2 separate regions of the Homo sapiens genome follow, and region 2 is linked to region 1. Evidence: fine-mapped expression QTL. A gene starts in region 1. The other region holds a variant in brackets. All regions are shown on one strand. Distances are between the middles of the regions. Region 1 holds the start of BMPER (BMP binding endothelial regulator). Region 2 overlaps BMPER (BMP binding endothelial regulator).

Evidence for each region. PIP is the estimated chance that this variant, and not a neighbour inherited with it, causes the effect. A credible set is the group of variants that fine-mapping cannot tell apart.
Region 2: its variant is the best candidate, but not a certain one, in a credible set for the expression of BMPER in cerebellar hemisphere (GTEx, PIP 0.79).

Annotation. Positions count from the first base shown.
Region 1 is chr7:33,902,729-33,908,106 of GRCh38, reverse strand. It overlaps BMPER (BMP binding endothelial regulator), which reads right to left and starts at 2,568. Exons shown (of 15, transcript NM_001365308.1): 1 at 2,361-2,568; 2 at 1,204-1,289. The coding sequence starts at 2,493.
Region 2 is chr7:34,066,129-34,071,506 of GRCh38, reverse strand. The region is part of intron 11 of BMPER (BMP binding endothelial regulator); the gene reads right to left. Among named protein-coding and RNA genes, the nearest start is that of BMPER, 160 kb to the right of the region's middle. The variant T/ATTTGT (reference allele first, on the strand shown) is at 2,936.

The DNA.
Region 1 (5,378 bases):
ACAGCAACCCATAAATATGCAATCATAATACACCCTCTCTCAGCTCTGTTTTATTAGGCAGCAATATTTATTGTGTCAGCAAACGCAGTGCGTTTTTACTTGTTTCTGTTGATTTCCTTAGTCTTCCGAACCTGATAATTGTTTGATACAGCCATTTACCTTCACCCATTTATCACTTCAAAACATTGACCTCAACTCTTGTCATGAAAAAATTTATGTAGTATAAACTCAGATAGCTTGGCTTTTGCCTAAACCGAAATGAATTCCTTCTCCAGCGCCACACAGCATGCTGATCTAGCAACAAGTAGTCCTCTATCATTCTGGGGCTTTGCATTTGACTGCCTTAATGTATTTCCAACAAGGTTTTATAATGTGTAGTTTCTAACCAAATTTTGCCAAAAGTGATTGGCATGTAAAACACTCCTAAGCAAAAATGTTTACCTTGTAGGTCTATATTTCATCTCAGAAATTCTTATTCACATTACTTAATCTCCCCCAAGTGGTTACTTATTAGACTTATCATTAACTACTAAACTAAAATAAATGGAAACAAATTATTTTTTGAGTCTTCTAACCACTGATAGTGTTAACTAAGCAGCTGACAGCCAAGTGTCATTCTCTATTAAGGATGGAATTGTCCTTTCCGACTCATGCTTCCAAATCAGAAATAAAGACAGTATTTGAGGGTTTAGGGTATAACAGGCAAAGAAACCCGAGAAAGAAATCCAGAATTACATCTTGTCCTTATGTTTGTTTTTTGTGGCTGTCACCTCTCTTTCCCTTTGTCGCATACCTTATTCCTGACCTTCATACTTAAATCTTATCTCATCATTTTCCCACTGAGCTTAAATGACAGAACCAACGCAGAAAGTTTTGTTGTCCCAAGAATTTGGTTGTAGTAATCATTACTGGAAACAGACATTACAAACTGTCATTTCACCGAGACGTCATACAAAGCCTATCTGAAATTTACGTCTATAAGGATGATGTCAAAGATAAGAATTTCCAGCTGGATGAAATGGAAATTGCCAAAGTCCATAAAACTCAGAAATTAACTGGATTCAACTCACAAACTATGTACAGTTATGTGCAATTTTGTAATGATAAAGACAATTTGTAAGATCTGGTTATATTATCACATTTAATGGATTCACCTTATCAGAGAGAGCAGTTGAGTTCATATTACCTGATCTCCACACTTACCAAGCAGACACACATTATGCAAGGGTTGTCTGTGATAAATGGAATCTGGAGGACTTCACCTTCATTTTCACATTTTGCAACAGAACCTGAAATTCAGGGGGGAAAAATGTTTCATTTAAAGTTAGCTTAGCAGCATGATTTCAACATTTAAAATTTTTACACTAATCCTTTTTGAAACCTCTACCCAAACTTCAGAATTCTTAATGTGGTTTAAATTATTAAATTCACCAAAGCAAAACCTCTGCCCCCAACTCCATTTTCAATAATTTTATTTAAACAGGTTCAAAAAAGAAAAGACTATGATATAGGGATAAATTATCTGTTCTCAGATGGTCTAAGCACAATTCCAAGTATTTCACTGGATTTTTAATAACACTCCTCCTTTATGAAGATATTTCAACTAAGCACACAGCCCCATACGCAAAGAAAAAAATAAAAAATAAAATTTAAAAAAACCCTCAAATTGGGGCAGATTTTAAATTGACCAAAACTCAGAACTGAGTCAATAAACAGGCCTTTCTATGAATCTGTCTCGCATTGTCTTAGGTTTAAATCACTTTTTGAAACGCAATCCCCTTTTCCCTTCTCTTAGAAATTGACTCCATATTTTCTTTTCTGCACCAGGTGTCAGTAAAGTATGTCCTTCAGAATAGCAGCTGAGGTCTTCACCTGCCTGAAAACATATAATTATTATATCCGGCTATTAGTGCCCTTTTTAAATGATAGTTTCTTTAAATTCAAGGTCTTGAGAGCCAGTGCTTTAAAAAGCACTCCTAGCACAGTGGATGTATTGCAACCCCAAAGATGAGAAAGGAAGATGTGCGGAAAACTGCACAAATTTTTTTCCTGAGTTCTACAGAGGGAAAGATTAAAATAAAAGTTGAGGAAAGCATTAAAAATAAATAAAATAATTTCTCAAATTCAAATAGAAGAATGTCTATTATTACTACATTGAAGGCAACAGCCTCTCAGCCCGCAACCTCTTCACCAGCCTTCCCAGCCCTCCCGGGGCTTCGCTTCATCCCCATCGACCAGCGCAGGGCAAGCGCCAAGGTGCGCGCTCCCCACCCTCCCATCCCCGGGGCAAGCCAGCGCCACCTTTCCCAGGTACCAAACCGGCGTCCCGGAGGGCCGGTCCCTCCCGCCCCCTCCCCTACCTGTCAAGAAGGAGGAAGCCAGAGACATGGGGACCCCCGAGCAATTGAGTAGCAGCAAGACGCAGCACGTAATCCCAGGCGAGCGGCGGCAGTAACGCTCAGCCAGAGCCCCGACGCCGGAGAACCAGAGCATCGTCACCTGGAGGGAATCCCTGGCGACTGCAGGTCCCGCGCCGCCGCCTCTGCTCAGCTGCCGCAGCTCACAGTCGAAAAGGGCTCTCAGCCGGCGTGTCGGGAGACCGTCCGCGAAGGAGGGAGGCGGGCGCCCGAGAGCTGGGGGGCGGGGGGGTGTGAGGGAGGGCGGGGGGAGAGACCAAGGTGTGGGGGCGCCCGGGGAGGAGGGGTCCTGCGGCCAGGCTCCTCCGATGCGGCTTTTTTTTTTTTTTTCCTGAGGGAGTTGCTTGCAGTGGCTTAGCAGTCAGCCCCTCAGCGCCGGAGAGGGGGCCAGGAGGAAGGGGTGTTGCGGCAGCCGGAGATAGACTGAGAGGAGCTGCGGCGCTGCCGACTGCGCACTGCCGCTCAGCCGCCGCCCGGGCTGCCGCTACTGTTTCGGGGGCTGTCGCTGTCGCTGCCGCAGCGTCCTCCACTCCCGCACTCCTCACCTCCTGCCAGCCCCGCCGGCTCTCGGCCCTCCCGGAGCGCGCTCGCTCCGCCGCAACAGACGTGGGCTCACCGGGCGCCTCCCGGAACCCGCTGGGGGCGCCCGGGCGCAGGAGGGACTGCGCGATAGCTGCAGCGGGAACTCTCTCGGCCCAGCTTCCAGTTCCCCAGCCCCTCCAGGGAGGCCAGGGCCCCAGGGCGCGGACCAGAGCCGAGAAGGCGCGTCTCCACTGTCCGGGCGAGCGCGGCTCCTCCTCCCTTTCTTGGGGGAGCCCCGGGGATGCCGCAGCACTAGCGCTCAGGCCCGGGTGCCCCAATCCAGCGAGGGAGCAGCAAACGGGACGCAGGGGCGCCCCACCACCCTGCTCGCTCCCGGGTGCCCCACCTTTGGGAAGGAGCGACACACCCGGGGCAGTAGGGCCCCCGCAACTTTTCATGCCCTGCTTTGCTTCCCTCTGGCGGGGGCGCGACAGCGAACTCAGGGGGCTGAGCGGACAGAGGGGCAAGTGGCCTTAGAGATGTGTTCTGTGCTTAGCTGTCTGCGCGTCCTGACACTAGGGATGACCGAAGTTGAAACACACACAAGGTCGATTTAAAAACGTACCGAGGCAAACGCCTTTCGTCCTTAAAAAATGAACAGTCGCTCCGAGACTCCTCCCTTCCAATCTCGGGCGGACCGGGGCGGGGAGGTGGTGTTTGACTAATCATTCATTCACCCGAAAAGAGGGAGGAACCCCCGCCCCACCGCTCATCTCTGGCGGGGGCCGCCGCGCGGCGGCCTCTGCAGCTCGGAGCTCCGTCGCTCTCTCAGCCCGGCTGCGCCCTCTCGCCTCTGCAGCACTGGGTGTCGGGGAGTCAGCTCCTGTGATCCCCCTGCTGAATCGCCGCCTCCTCCCCACGCAGTGGCACCCTCTACTCAAAAGGGGTGCAATCGCAGAGAGATGATTTTTGTAACCAAAGTACGAAGGCGCGAGGTGGGAGTGAGGGACGCTTGGCAAGTGTTGGGACCTGACGATCAGCTAGCTGTCCTTGAGCTCACGGTGGACTACCGACTTCCTCTGTCCAAGAGTTGAAACCGGGTCCCCACGGAACGGACCTAAGGGTCTCCAGGCAAAGTGGGTTGTTTCCATTGTGGAAACTACAGCTTTGAAAATAAATGAGTCTGTTTGCTGACAGGTTTAATCTAGCTTCACCTTAACCCTTCCCTGCCTCGTTGACTGTTTATTCGTTTTTTCGAGTGATTTGGAGACTTCACTTAATTAGTGCAACATTGCCAACATCGCGACACACCGAGGAGCTGATGCGAGCACGTTGCTGTGACGTGGGAAAAATAAGAGAAGGGAAAACTGTCATTAGCTTAGCATGCTCCATTTCCCTCCCAAAATAGATTCTTACCGTAAAATTTAAATTGAAAGAGAAGGCTGATGTGTGATTCCTTCCCTCCCTCCCCCCACCCAAATAAAGCCATGGCCAGGCAGCTTCTCGGAAACCAGTGTGTTTATGTATTTACTAATCATAAAGATAATATGCAAAAAGAGAAAAATCTCTAAATCCAGCCTTACTTCCCAGGGACTCATTAAAAAATAAATAAAATTAAAATTAAAAATTAAATAAATAGAAACCTTTATTGCTGCAGATAAGTACAATCAGTTGGAACCACTATCTCCTCTATCTAAAAAGATTGTCCCTGGATGAGGCTTTTAGATAAAGTTGTTTATCATAATTTAATTATGGAAAGCTGAAGAATAAGGAAGCTGGGAGACCTTTTGTTGCCTTAGCCATAAATTTGGATAAATGCATGCTATGAAATTGCAAGACATTTGAAGGGTGTGCCTGAGTTACTTTGATATGCCTTCCCTCCCTGACACCAGCCAAACATCCTCAGAATTTGCATGACAAATTTCTTTATGATAGAATCTAGCTGTGTGTGGCATTTCCATAATGTGCAGCATGGTGCTTTGGAATGCACTGGAACTCTCCCTGTAGGTGCAAACCCAAAAACCACCTTAAAAACATTTTCATCTGTCTGAAAGTTTGCGAAGGGGAAAAATGCACAGAAGCCTTTGGCAAACCTGTCTCTTCTTCCTGTTTGTTATAAGCCTCTGCCACCAGCGATTTCCCTTGCTGCCTTCTTGGCAAATGGGCCCTGCTTCCGAAAGAGCAGCCTTTTCTCCAAGGCCTTATCAAGATGTTTTCCCATGCATCTACTGCTGCCATCACCCCTCAAGTGATAGTCTATCAGCTGACAACTGGTCTCTGTCTACACAAAACGGAGATATTCCAGGGTCAAAAAGAAAAAAGAATGCCTGCACTGAAAAGCACACAGATCTGCCTTCACAGTTTAACTAAATAAATAGTGGTACCATCCAAATCCCAAAATGGCTTTGGCTGAAATCAAAATGAGGGGAAAAAATGTGT
Region 2 (5,378 bases), 160 kb before region 1:
AGCCTCCTTGGAGCTTGGCAGTCATTGAGCATATTATTGCTTTGAAGAGTCTTGTGTTTGAATCCTGATTTTGCCACTTAAGGCTTATAAAATCATGCACAAACTACCTACATAACCTCAATTTGTTTGCCTATAACATGACTCTAAGAACAATTACCTTGCCGGGTGATTATAAAGATAGCATTGCAAAGCTGCCTAGAACATAAGAGATACTCAGAGTAGTCATTATTCATTTGCTTATTATAAATGTTATGCAAGTCTAGCAAATAGTTATCTAGTGCTGGCTAAAATGGGGTTGAGTAAGACTGTAATGAACTTAGAAAGTATAGATTTGTTGAAAAGACAATGTAAATTGAGGTAGTCTATAAAAGACATAAAATACAGATTTGGGGCTAGAATGAAGTAAGCCTTCTAGGCCAAAAGAAGAATGTAAATAAAGTCATGGACATAGATAAGAGGGCAGCTTATACAAGAAGAGCAGGAGGCCAATCGCACCAGAGTGCAGAGCTGCTTCGGGAGATACAAGACACCCAAGTTGTCTAAATAAATTGGCCTGAGATTTACTGCCAGCCTGAGAAGTTTAAATGTATTCCAAACAACCAGCATTTCTTGATGTGTTTCCTGTGAAACATCAATCCTGCCTGTTGCTCTGCCAAAATAAGTAGAAATTAAAAAAAAAAAAAAAAAAAAGCTCTGCCGCTCAAATTAGTTTGGGAGGCACTCTATACTCCAACCTCTTTCACCATGCACGTCAGCATATTAAGGGCTCTGAGAATTCTGCAGTAAGAAAACACATTTAAGTTTACTTGACCCAGCATTTCCTGAGTGTATTTAATCACAGAACCTTGTTTTGAAAATATTACTCATCATTATCCCTCAGCACTAGTGTTTTATAAAACAAACTCTGGGAAACCGCAAGGGAAGGAAGCTGGTGTAGGTTTCTGTGAAAGCTAAGTTTGGGTTCTGACAGGGGTGTGCAAAAAGGGGTGAAGGAGAAGAGAGATGGAGATTACATGCAAGCAATAGGATGAGTGTCCGGCTGCCATGGGAATGGCAAGGAAAGTATTTATTTGAAAAACATCACAAAAAGACAATCAAGCAAACCTGATGATTGATTAGCAACATGGGGGAGAAATGCCAAAAGTATGAGAAATAACATTAAGGCTCAAATCTTGTGCAGCTGGGATATGGGGGTGCCAGAATTCAGTCAACAAACAGGGATTGGAAACAGCCATTAGCCCCTCCATCCAACTCCCAGCTCAAATAATTGGGGGAATCAAAGGTAGAAACTATTAACAAAATTCAAATGCAATACTTTGAAAGAACATGTTCTCCAAGAAGCTGAGATCTACTACATTAGCATCTTGTTAAGAAGTGATATGTTAAGGACCTCAAAGCTTAAACAAATCTGAAACCAGAGTGAGAAAGTACAGAAAGGGCACCATGAAAGTGGAGCTGTGGGTTTACAAGATGAAAAAGCAAAAAGTAAAACAACAGATACTTGCACTAAAGAAGGATATGGAAAGTCAGAGAAGAGGGGTGTAGCAATGAATGAGGGCAGAGAGTACTAACGCGGAAGGGAACAGAGATAAGAAGAAAGAATGACAGCATTCATGAATATGAATTTCACATCAAAGGGCCATGCAAAGCACAGCTAATGAGTCATCTCTCCATACTCCCAGCAAAGGTTACAACTGAAGTATTGTAACCTAAGAGACTGAAGAGGTTAAAGTGACCTCATAAATGTAGGTACATTTTTAAAAAGTAAGTAAATACAACTGCTTGTAAGTAGAAGCCACTAGTCATGTATAAAAGAAAGTAACTGGCAAACCTCATATCTGTTTGGAAGTGAACCTCCAAAATGAATACAAATGTAGTCAATAGAGAACAGAGAATAGTGCATAAAAGTTTGGGCTTTGGAGTCTCGTAGGCCAGTGTATTAGCTGACCACAAACTATTTAATTTCTTTCACCCTCAGGCTAATGACAGCTTCTAATTCATAGGAACATGGTAAGGATTAAATGGCAAAATGGAGAGCATTTATCACAATACCTGACTGATATGGACTAATGTTCAATAAGTCGCTGTTAGTTATAGGAGCAATTGCAGAGGCAGCAGAAGTAGCAATTTTTGTTGCTTTTATTTTGCTCATAGGAGATGTGACCTCCAAAGAGGAATAAATCTGCCTCAGCTCTGCATATAGTAATGTATAATTAGTTATACAGTACTTCCCACCAAGTGTATTTTTTAAGTTTCACAGCTTGGGGTTTCTATTGTTCATTTGTTTTGTCGTTTAGCTGTATTTTAGGTGTATCATTACCAAGGAGTTTCCGTCACACATACCCTCAGTCAAAACTGGATACTTGCAATTTTCCTGAGATTCAACATGGCAGCCTTGGCTACATTGTACCAGATGTCTAATAATGAATTCGCATATCTTTTTCTATATAAAATGCATTCTTTTGAAATTAAGCAAGAAACTAGCTTTTAATTGAACTATGTCATAATGCTACACCTATATTAAAAATAGCTTTCCCAAGCAAAAATCCAGGGAGGCCTGTAGAATGAATACTGGATTAGGAGATTTTTAAAAATATGCAAGTCCTCATCCCAGCTCATTCAGTTAGTACTGCTGTGAGTCTCAGTTTCCTCACCTGTGAAGTGAGAGGTCTAACCTCATATTAAGGTCCCTTCACTTACAAATTTCCTGATGCTAAAATGGTGATGAGCTCCAAAGGCAGGGCAACTCTGCTCTTACCCATTCCTGGTGGAAATTATATACAGAGTTATTTCAAGTTCAAAACTATGTGTACTTAAAAAGAAAATTTGGGGAGATCTTCACTTGACCCCAGTAACTTGAATTACCACGAGAAAAAAAAACTGGAAAAACTAGTAGACATGGAAAACAAACAAAATGGAAAACCAAGCCAGTTTG[T/ATTTGT]CAGTGAGCTCAGAGCATACCAACCACCACTTCTCTGTACTTGAGCAGAAAGACGGAGATGCCACAGTAGAAGAAAGCCTGGGGACTTGAGTCTCCATTTCCAACCAGGTGTGGTTGGAGGGACAACACTGTTAATTGGAAATTCCTCTTAAGGTCCTTCGCCAGTCTCCAATGCTTACAAGTTGTAAAGCCCTCCAGACCTTCTCTTCCCCTTCTTAACTTCAACTGGTTATCAAACTGTACAAAATGACAAGGAAGCTAAGGGAAGTAATTCCAGACCAAGCTTTCGGGCCAGCTACCTGGTTGGAATTCAGGCTCCACAACTATCTTGAGCGTCCTTCTTAACCTCTAAGCCTCAGTTCCCTCAACTGTAAAATGGAGCTAACAGCACTATTTGACCACAAGACGGCTGTGATAATCAAATGAAACCAAATGAGACTGCCCAAGATAGTGTTTAGAGACGGCAGATGCCAAATAAATATTAGCTGCTGCTGCTGCTGGTGGGTACTACTGTTGTTATTATTGCTATTATTGTTATCTGTGGATGATGATGGTGGTGATTGTTAATTCATCAAATAATCACTTATCAAGGACTTACTGAGTACTAACACCCTGTGGGAATTGACAATAGGTGGTAGAGAAAAGGTGATTCCTAATAACTTCAGTCTCCTTCAACTCTGTACTAATTTACAGCAAGAAAAATTAAAGTAACAGTATCCCTTAGAGCAGAACAGCATATAAAACAGAAGACAGACTGATTTCCTCATGCTCCTTCCAGCGTGGCTTCTACCGGTGTGGGATCTCCCAGCCACCATGTGTGGTACAGTGGGTTTTATTTGCCACCCCTGTCTGCTGTTTGGGCCTGAGGAACAGTGTCAAGCCCGACTCCAGATGCTGGAGCAGAAACTTCAGTGGCCACTTAGGTTAACACCTCCTTGGCAGGGCTAAAGTCAACACCACAAATTCTTATTCTACAAGCATCTTGAGCTCTGGTTTCGAATTTCCTTGCTTTCCTGAGTTAAGGACAGACTCTCGGTGTTAAGGGACCTGGAGTTGCTTACAGCCCTGGAGGCCAGAAACCTTGCTCAAACACAGAATCACTAATTTGCAGAACCTCTGTCAGTGGAGATTTCTCATAAAATGGGCCCCTAGGTTGCTGTTTCATTATGGTTTTTTTTCTAGGGAAATAAATGAAATTGTTATTATAGTCTCCCCCTCCTACAGCCATTCTGTTAATTGGAGCTACCTGTACGCATCCCAGAGGGCTTACATCAGATGTGCCAAAACGAGTGGCTGTGGTGGGTGTAGGCAGCAGGCAGGGCTCCTAGGAGAGCAGGCACACCAATGCAGCCTGCACACAGCTGGAAACCAACCCTGGGGGGTTTAAAAAGTCACCTGGCAACTGTGAGCCTCCTCTCACCATGAGCTGCTGAAATTTGATATTTCCTGTTACTTCTGGGACATGTAGTTGAGGTTATTTCAATTAAATGCACATCTGTGCTCGGCATATTCAATCAGCCTCAGTGTTATGTAATCGTGAACTTGTGTTTTAAGCTGGGATTCTGATGGTTAGGTCTGATGTAGCTACAGGTACAGCTTAATGAACCACCAGGGACTGGGCATGCACGTCTGGGCTGCCTTTGTCTCTGCTTTTGTGGATGGCTGAGAGATTAATTTTCTCATATACTCAATCTGTCAATCTCAGTCTCTCTCTCTCTCTGCCCCTCCCTCCATCCCTCTCTCCCTTTCTTTCTCTATACACATCTCACATGCACCTTTCTTATTAGTGACAACTTTGACCCTATGTATTATTTCCATGTTAGAAAACAGATATCCTGCCAGCAAAGAATTTATCTGATTCAGGTCTCTGTTGGGTGGTTAGGTCAAGATTCCACCTGCTATTTGCCAACACACAGTAAAACAACATTTTGCATAAACAAAATGCTACACACAAAACAGGCAAGTGGCCTCCCTGGCACCTACCCTGTGCTCATGTGTGCCCAGCCGAGGCAAGTCCAGATTGGCTTAAGGCTAGAGTCTCACACTTTGGCAAGAAACAGCATTTGCAAGAAAGCTTTATGAAGTTTGTGTAGCCCACTTCAAATATTTTGTTTTAAATAAATCATCAAAATCAAATCTAATTCTTTTCAGTTGGAAAGGGAGAAAGAGAGCCTGTTCCATGTTATGAAAAGACAGCAATGCTTTTCATACTTCCCTCAGGTCTGATTTTAAGAGGACTTTTGTTCTCCTATTTTGAGAGAATCATCATTGCTCCTTCAGGCCAACCCTACAAAAACTGTCTTACTGTGGGGAGGACAACGGCATTGTGCCTCCTCTATTATTTCTTACCTACAAAATTGTAAATTACCATTACTGCTGACTGTTGTAAGGAGAGGCCCATAAGAATGTTCTATAGATGCACTTCAAGTTTCCTCTTCGTTAC